2 separate regions of the Homo sapiens genome follow, and region 2 is linked to region 1. The links come from fine-mapping of genetic effects on gene expression. A gene starts in region 1. The other region holds a variant in brackets. All regions are shown on one strand. Distances are between the middles of the regions.

Region 1 (4,381 bases):
CACTCAGGAGGAAGAGAGGAGGCCTCAATTCTTCCGTTTTCCATTGTAGCAGCAACATGAAGCGAGCAGCCTCCTTGAACTATCTGAACCAACCTAGTGCAGCACCCCTCCAGGTGAGAGCAGTGCTTGTGAGCATATTGGTGGGTGAGGAAAAAAGGACAGCCAGTGAGCAAGCCCAGTGGAGTAAGGGAAGAGGGAAGGGAGAGGAGTCATCTGGGATGAAGATGAGCCAGGGGATTGCAGTCATTAAGGAATCAGGCAGATAGCTTGTGGTGAGTGCTGACCACCAAGGGACAGTTTCAGGCCAGACATAGTAGCAAATAAGTTAATAAGGAGGGAAATAGGAATATTCTGTAAACTGGTACTTTGGAATTATGAATAATTTAAGAATTATTTGGAGATACGAATTATTTTTTCATCCTGCAGCCGCCTTAGTAGTAGATGAGAATGGAAAAAGAAAAGTATTAAATAATCCCCATCTGAGAAAACACTAGTGATATTTTAATGGCAAATGACTTCTTGTATCAACACACAAGTATATGCCAGTATTCATGTGGTTCTTCCAGGTAGCTTCTCCACCAGATTGTGGCCTTCTGGAAAACCCTAGCAGAGGCTAAACAAAGTCCCAGGTCCAGAGATAGACTGGTCCAGAGACAGATGTGATCCTAGGTCCAGAGATACACTGTGACCATGGGATGGATGGACTCTAGGAGCCAGTCTTTGGGAGGCCGAGGTCCCTGAGCTGATGGGGTAGTGTTGTCTGTTTCAGGTCTCCCGGGGCCTCAGTGCCAGCACCATGGACCTCTCTTCAAGCAGCTGACATTCAACCCGGCCCCCAGGTCTGCTGGGTCCCCCCACCCCCACAGCCCTCACAGCATTCCCCATTGCTCCTGGCTCTTCCCCACCCCTAGGTGGGACAGTGAAGGGGAGCAGTTTAACCAGAAGATTGCTGCTGCCCTTAGGGTCTCAGCTCCCTCCTCAGGAATCCCTCTTAGGAAGGACCCTCAGGACACCCTCTCTGCACCCTGTGGTCCTCTAGAGTAGCTAGCTCTGAGGCCCCAAGGTGGGTACAAAGCAGGTATGGCCCTCAGAGATGCAGCCTGCTGCTGGCTTTTCAGTCAGAGGGTTGGGGGCTGGCCAGCCAAGCTGCCTTGCCCTGGCCGCTCTTACTCCCTCCCTCTGCTGTCTCACTTCAGGTCCATGTATTTCACTTTTCTTAAATAAAAGAATCAGGTAACCTTTCTGTGACTTGAGTCCTGATTGAAGAGGGTATGAAGCAGGGCTTGTGTTGGGGCCCTTCACAGAAGGTGAGGGGCAGTGATGGATGGAGCAGCAGGAGGAGTGTTGATTCTTGGATCTCTCCTCTCTTCCTCCCGTTGTTTGTATCATCTCCAGCAGGGCCTGTAGGAAGGCATCTGGGGGATGGGGAAGAAGGAGGCTCACAACCCAAGGAGAAGGTGCTGTGGACTGGGTTGTCAGGGACATGTGGTGGCCATGTGGCAGGACCCTGGAGTCCTGGCGCCACTTCTCCTGGCTGTGAGGCCCTCTGTGGCTGCCATTCCTCCTCCCAGCTGCTTGGGGGAAGGGAGGTCTAAACAGGCCTGGGGGGCCCTCCGGAACCAGAGGGGAGACAAGGCACTATCCATCCCCTCTCAGCATATCTTGGAGGCCTGAGCAGCAGCTGGGGCCCATCTTCTAAAGCTTGACTCCTCCTGACCCGCCTCCTACACCCCTTGCTGCTTTCACAACAAAGAAAGAATGTGGGGGTGGTGGCGCTGGGGGTGGGGGTGCCTGGAACAAGGGTTGTGCTGGGCCTCCCCACAGCTGGAGACTTGGCCATACCCTGACACAGCCCAGACTGCCTGGAGATGGACTTGGGATGAATTTGTCAGTTAGCAGACTTCAGCCTGGCTTTCAGAGCCCAGCGTGTTTCTACCTTTGGGTTCAGATTGGTCTACAGCCAAACCAGACCCCAGTCATGCACACTTCAGCCCCTCTCCGGGCTACACAGCATCTTCAGGTTACTTGGGGACATTAAGGACACCCTGCTGTTCTGGGTCTGCCGTTAAGATTTTGGGTTGCTGAAGAGTTGGCGGGGCCCGCCTCTTCCCCTGCCCCCACCTGGAGAATTCTGGGGGAACTGTTGGCCAGAGCCTCCAGGTATGCCCAGAATGGACCATTCTCCCCAGGGTCCACGGAATCGCACAAGTCACTTAGGTTCTCCCGGATCCCTGCAGAGTCGGTGGTGGGTACAGCAAATACTCAGGTCCCCTGCACTTCCCTGAGCCTTGCTCTCTCTATTCTCCATCCCTCTCCAGACCCCTCCCCCTACTGAGCTCCTCCCCGCCTCGGCGAGGAGGGGGCGTCGAGGGGGCGGGGCGCCGTGCGGGGGCCGGAGGGGAGGGGGCGTCGTGGGGCGGGGCTTGGCGGCGGCGGCGGCGGCGCGCGGGGACTCGGAGGTACTGGGCGCGCGCGGCTCCGGCTCGGGACGCCTCGGGACGCCTCGGGGTCGGGCTCCGGCTGCGGCTGCTGCTGCGGCGCCCGCGCTCCGGTGCGCTCCGCCTCCTGTGCCCGCCGCGGAGCGCAGTCTGCGCGCCCGCCGTGCGCCCTCAGCTCCTTTTCCTGAGCCCGCCGCGATGGGAGCTGCGCGGGGATCCCCGGCCAGACCCCGCCGGTTGCCTCTGCTCAGCGTCCTGCTGCTGCCGCTGCTGGGCGGTGAGTACCCGAGAGTTGGGGGCACAGAGCTTGGGAAGCGCGGGAGTCCCGTGGGCAAAAGGCTGCGCCCGGGGCGGTGGGTTTGGGCGGCTGGAACGGCCCTGGAGTAGTGGAGAGGCTCGCTGGGGGTGCAGGCTTGCGGCGGAAGGGCGCAAGGAGCCCGGGTGTCGGGAGGCTGGCGAAGCCTCCAGGGACGCGGTCAGGGTACCCCTCCCACTCGCGCCGCGGGGACGCATTTCCAGCCTCCCTGAGTTTTTCTGGTCTGAGCCGAGAGTTTGCTCGAGAACTGCCGAGAGTTGCTGGCTCTCGGGCCCAGATGGGGAGTTTCTTGTCGGGGGAGAAAAGACCATCCGCACCCACCGTGGGGAGCGCGATGGAGAAAAAGGAATTCCCCACCCCACCCGGCAGGGTCGGCCCAGGTAAGAGTTGCTGGTTTGGGGCCCGATGCCGGACAGACCTGCGGCGCGCAAAGCGCGGAGCTTTGTTACCTACGCCGACCCGACGTTCCCGGCTTCCCTCCTCCGAGTTCCTGGGCAAAGCTGAGACCCCAGATGGCCCTGCGGGTGAGGGCGGAAGAAGGGAAGAGTTAGGGGCCGCCCCCATCCATGGCCTCTAGCTACTGGTCTGGAACCCTGCGCCCACTCCGTGCCAGGGCCGAATCCGGGGATCCGAGGGTCCCAGGCTGTCGCGGTGACTAATGTGTGAAGGCCGCTGCCAAAATCGGGCATGGCCTGGCTGCAAAGGTGCGGACGGGGTTTGTTCTGCTCCTTCCTGGATTTCCATCCTGACTGTCCTCACAGAGGAAAGGAAGTATTTCTAAGGGAAGAAAGGCAAAAAGAGCTCATTCTGGCTTTTCTTGGGGGGGGGCCTTAGCATTTTAACGAGGGTGTGGCCCTCATCACCAGGGCAGACAGCACCGCCCCCCCAACTCCCGCAGCTTTTATTTCCTGGCTTGGTCACACCTAAGAGTCATCACTGAGGTGTTGAAGTGCCTTACAGGAAAGCACCAAGCCACCCGCACATCCCAAATAGCCCGGACTGGAAATAAAGCCCCCGACCCTCCACAACACTCCTTGGTGGTCCTCGAAGCAGCTTTCTCTTGGGGAGCTCTGTCGAGGAGACCTGTCCTAGGTGATCACCTTCCATCTCCTTTGAAGGTGGCAATGGGAAGGGCATGGGTAAGGAATTGCCTTTCTAATATCTTTCTGGCCTGCCAGCTGTGGAGGGGTTTTGGTGCTGGTGGAATCAACATCTCCCCTGCCCCCAGTTGTAAAAGGAGAGGTAAATGTAACCCAGGAAAGAGACCAATCTCCAGGGATTTGGAGGAGGTGTTTCTGGAGTTGCCCCGTTTTTCTTGTGATGTGTGTGGTGGTTATTGCTCGTGGCAGAATCCACATCTGCTCCCAGAGGAAGTATGGAAGTTTTTTTGCACAGCCAGGATGGGGGCCCAGCCATCTGGGCGAGCAGCCCAAGCTCACAGGCCCCCTGGCTGTCCTGGTTGGGTTTTGGTGTGTGGGTCTGCCCAATGAGGCTGCCTTCACTGCTGCTGTTCAGGGTACTAGAGTCAAGGGGAGTTTCTGGTGAAGATGGGGCTCTTGCTCAACAAATGCTGAATTCCTAAATTCCTTCCATGAGAAGATGACTCTGATGTTAATTGACTTAATCT
Region 2 (4,381 bases), 69 kb after region 1:
GTCTCCCTTCATTCCCCTAATGCCTCTTGAGGCCCCTCAGTGTGGGCCATTAAAAGGCCCCTAGACCAGCAGATCCCTTCTACAGATCTGCTTATTGAAAAACCTGCTCTGTGCCAGGCAGTGCCTGGAATTCTAAACCTGAAGCTCCCAAATGCTGCTCTCCGGGGCCTGGCTCACATTATCAAGTCACTTGGGAAGCTTAACAAATAACGTGGGTTTGTGGTAGCTCCTTGACAGGTGTGCTTATCCGTGTCGCCTGTCTTGGCTTCCGATGCAAAGCCAGCTTGGGAACCCCTGGCCTCATCTCCTTCAGAGTCTTCGTTTGACCTTGGTGGGGCATGAGGACCTGCTGGCCCTTGTTAAAGCCAGTGAAGGTGGTGACCCTCCCGGGCCATCTGTTAAGTTGCCCTGTTGATGGGGTTGGGAGGAGTTAGTAGAGAAGCAGGGCTTCTTTTGCTTAGCAGCCCCTGCCCAGACCCATCTGTGTGTCTCTCAGACAAGCCTGTGCCGGAGGAGTCGGAGGGCCCTGGCAGCCCTCCCCCCTACAAGATGATCCAGACCATTGGGTTGTCGGTGGGTGCCGCTGTGGCCTACATCATTGCCGTGCTGGGCCTCATGTTCTACTGCAAGAAGCGCTGCAAAGCCAAGCGGCTGCAGAAGCAGCCCGAGGGCGAGGAGCCAGAGATGGAATGCCTCAACGGTGAGGGGCCCTGGACGGGGAGGTGGTGCCCGTGTGCGGGAGCTGAGCGCCCTCCCGCGGCCACGGAGGGGAGAGCGCCAGCACTCTGGAAACCGAGCGGCTGTTGCTGGGTCCTGGAGCTGGGACTGCCCCACCCCTAGCGGGAAGCCTGGAGTTGGATTCCCAGGGCCTCGTCTTCTGAGCAACCTGGCTTGAGACTTCTTCATTGGAGCCCCTTGGACCAGCTTCCTATGATTCCCTGCTGTTTCCTCCTCCCAGCACAAAACCACAGATATCATTAGTATATGTACACACGTTGCTGTTGCATGTCTTGTCTCCCTCTATGAGTCTAAGAGCTCCCCCAGGGGCAGTCTTTCTGTTTACTTCCCTTCTCCTATCCCCACTTCCTGGACTGGGAGCTCCTTGAGGTCATTGCTGGGTCTCTCCTATCAGCTCAGGTGTTCAGGAGCAGAGGTTGGGTCTCCATTATTGTGATTTTCCCTTTGTGCCTGTTTAGGGCTTTGCCCAATAGGAGGCCCCATGAAAGCAAAAATCCTTATGTGTAGCTATGGTATTAAGGACCAGTGATTCAGATTAGATGTCTGCAGTTGGCTTCATCTCAGAGGTCATAATCAGCTGCATCACTAAGGGGTCATACCCTAGGGGATAGCCATACATCCCCCACCCAGCCCCAGCCCCATTATTTCATCATTTGGGCTTGCCCTTTCATGTGGAGCACTGTGATTGGACCCAAGTTGGCAAGAGTGGAAGACCAGGGGACAGAACAGAAATCCCCATGGTGGCCAGAGTGTCAGGTCTCATCGTGACGCTCTTGTCCTCCTCCTTCCCAGGTGGGCCTTTGCAGAACGGGCAGCCCTCAGCAGAGATCCAAGAAGAAGTGGCCTTGACCAGCTTGGGCTCCGGCCCCGCGGCCACCAACAAACGCCACAGCACAAGTGATAAGATGCACTTCCCACGGTCTAGCCTGCAGCCCATCACCACGCTGGGTATGTTGCCTTGACTACAGCTGCCCCTGCCTAACTACAAGTCACCCGCTGTGTCTTGAGGCTGGGT[A/G]CGGGCTAGTGTTCTGAAGTCCCTGAAACCTAGAATGTTAGAGGTGGAGGGAAGCATAGGTAGAGATCTAGCCCAGTGTGGCCCCAGAGCCTGTTATTCACTGCCCTTCGTGCAGATTTTGTCATTCCTGTGTACTACCTGTAGTATTATTTACTTGATGTTTTATTTAAATTGACTCTTTAAAAAAAAAAACTAAGTTACCATTGTTCTAGGAAAAAATATGAGAAATCATGGGTTTGTCATAGTTACGTTTTTTCCTAGCATACGTTAAGACATGTTTACCATGAGCCACCAAAAATTCTCATGCGAGTCACCCTTTGGAAAATGCTGAATATTAGTCCCACCCTTTTATTTTGTTGCTGCAGACACTGAAGCCTAAGGAGGGAGGGGGTCACAGCAGAACCGGGTCTCGTGCCCAGCCCAGGTGGGTGGGTCCCCACTGTGGGAGAGGCTAGGCCCCTCCCCCAGGTCAGGAGCTGCCTCGGCCTGGGTGAAGGTGGCTGGCTGACTCAGACTGTACCCACAGGGAAGAGTGAGTTTGGGGAGGTGTTCCTGGCAAAGGCTCAGGGCTTGGAGGAGGGAGTGGCAGAGACCCTGGTACTTGTGAAGAGCCTGCAGAGCAAGGATGAGCAGCAGCAGCTGGACTTCCGGAGGGAGTTGGAGATGTTTGGGAAGCTGAACCACGCCAACGTGGTGCGGCTCCTGGGGCTGTGCCGGGAGGCTGAGCCCCACTACATGGTGCTGGAATATGTGGATCTGGTATGCTGTTGGCAGGGGACGTGGGGGTCTCGGGTAGGGAGGGCAGTGTCCTACAAAGGTGGGAGTCAGTGGTTGGAGCACCGTGAAAACCTTGTCTCGTGCAGTCTCAGCCGAGACCTCACCTGCCTGCTGTTACACTTTGCCCACCTTATGATGCTCAGCTTCTGCCTTCCCTGCTCTTGGATGCCTGCTTTCCCTTTATCAGCACCCAGTCTTTCCATCTGTATCTCAGGGGCGTTGGTCCTAAGTTTTTCTGGGACTTCTCACTGTCACACTGCAGGGATGCCTTCCAGGTCATCTTCTCTGACTCTTGTTTTCTTTGGTTTGTTATTTTTTCCTCCCCAAAAGCTTGTCCCCACTTGAGAATAAATATATCAGAACCCACTTTGCCTCCCTCCTTCCTAGCACCACTTGTGACATGAGTGTTACCCCAGCCACCAGCCTTCTCCTCTCCACTCAGGGTGTCATTCCCAGAGCTGCGCCTTCCTCTTCATTCCCCAGCTGGTCCTTGCCCTCACCCCATGGTCCTCAAACTGCTGCTTCTCAAATCCCTAGTTCTGGGGCAAGAGCGGGCAGGAGTCCTATCAGTCTTTCCATTAACAAGTACTTACGCGGCTGGGCACAGTGGCTCACACTTGTAATCCCAGCACTTTGGGAGACTGAGGCAGGAGGATCGCCTGAGGCCAGGAGTCCGAGACCAGCCTGGGCAACATAGCAAGACTCTGTCTCTACAAAAAAATTAAAAACAAACAAACAAGTACTTATGAATGCTTTATGTATGTTTCTGCTGCTGGCGTTCTCCTTTGTTTGTTTAGATTAGATTGTAAAGCTCTGGAGGACAGGGGTTTCCTCTCAGGAATCTTTGAGGGCAGAGGGTAGGGGACTGTTTTCCTCTTGGCTCACTGAAGATGGGGGCTCTGTTGCCCCACCTGTCTGGAGGTTCCCCTTGGGGTAGAAATGCCAATTCTCCTCCTTTCTAACTGAGACAGCCTCTAGGAGGCGTCTCCTATATATTTTTAAAGTTCTGCACTCCCAGTGAACTTCCCCCTGGGAAAGGGGCCCAGGCTAGCTTAGGCCTTCTCACTGCCTCCCCAGGCAGGAATTCTGCGAGCACCTGCTTGGTCTGAGGCTTTACAGCCAATGGCTGTGCACTGACCTGAGCGAGATGCCTGGCTTTTCCCTTAGGGAGACCTCAAGCAGTTCCTGAGGATTTCCAAGAGCAAGGATGAAAAATTGAAGTCACAGCCCCTCAGCACCAAGCAGAAGGTGAGGACAGGGAGTGAAGGAGGGAGGGAGAGGGTGCCCAGGGGTGGGCCAGGAGCAACAGAGGCACCATTTATTGAGGGCTCTCTATGGGCCAGGCCCTATGGTAAGAACTTCACATGTGTTACTGTAATTATCACGGTAGTCGTCTGAAATATATACTACTATCCCCATTTTGTGGATGAAGACATTGAGGCTTAGGAGGTTGTCTGACCTGTCCCAGGTCATGTAGCCTGGAAGTGGCTTTGCATTGCCATGCTGGCTTCACGGAGAAGAGCTACCCTCGGACCTTGCCTCTGGGCAGGAGCTTGCATTGGAGCAGGACGCCTGCCCACCTGCAATGAGCTCTGAGCTGGAGAAGCAGCAAGCAGTCCTAGTGCAGGGGCCTGCTGGGCTAGCTGTGGGCCTGAGCGTGTTTCTTCAGCTCTGAGTGGAGAAGACTCTTCTGTGAATGGGCTGCCTGGGTTTCCCCCTCTGTGGTTTGCATCTTGTCCTCTCCCTTGGGCTGTAGCTGCCCAGCCTTTCATTCCAGTTTTCCTCCTGCCTTTTGCGCAGAGGTTGTTCTGGGCACAGAGCCCTGGCTGGGGCCCCTGTGGTAGAGCAGAC

The links.
Region 2: its variant is fine-mapped to the expression of PTK7 in whole blood (INTERVAL, PIP above 0.99).

Annotation. Positions count from the first base shown.
Region 1 is chr6:43,073,853-43,078,233 of GRCh38, forward strand. PTK7 (protein tyrosine kinase 7 (inactive)) reads left to right here and starts at 2,462. Exons shown (of 20, transcript NM_002821.5): 1 at 2,462-2,715. The coding sequence starts at 2,637. It overlaps KLC4 (kinesin light chain 4), which reads left to right. Exons shown (of 16, transcript NM_201521.3): 15 at 50-113; 16 at 770-1,241. The coding sequence ends at 820. KLC4-AS1 (KLC4 antisense RNA 1) reads right to left here and starts at 2,378. Exons shown (of 2, transcript XR_002956347.1): 1 at 1,843-2,378; 2 at 481-1,415. RefSeq lists an enhancer at 1,597-2,120 and a silencer at 2,450-2,549.
Region 2 is chr6:43,142,921-43,147,301 of GRCh38, forward strand. PTK7 (protein tyrosine kinase 7 (inactive)) reads left to right here. Exons shown (of 20, transcript NM_002821.5): 14 at 497-700; 15 at 1,531-1,686; 16 at 2,280-2,512; 17 at 3,698-3,778. Among named protein-coding and RNA genes, the nearest start is that of SRF, 26 kb to the right of the region's middle. RefSeq lists an enhancer at 506-595. The variant A/G (reference allele first, on the strand shown) is at 1,754.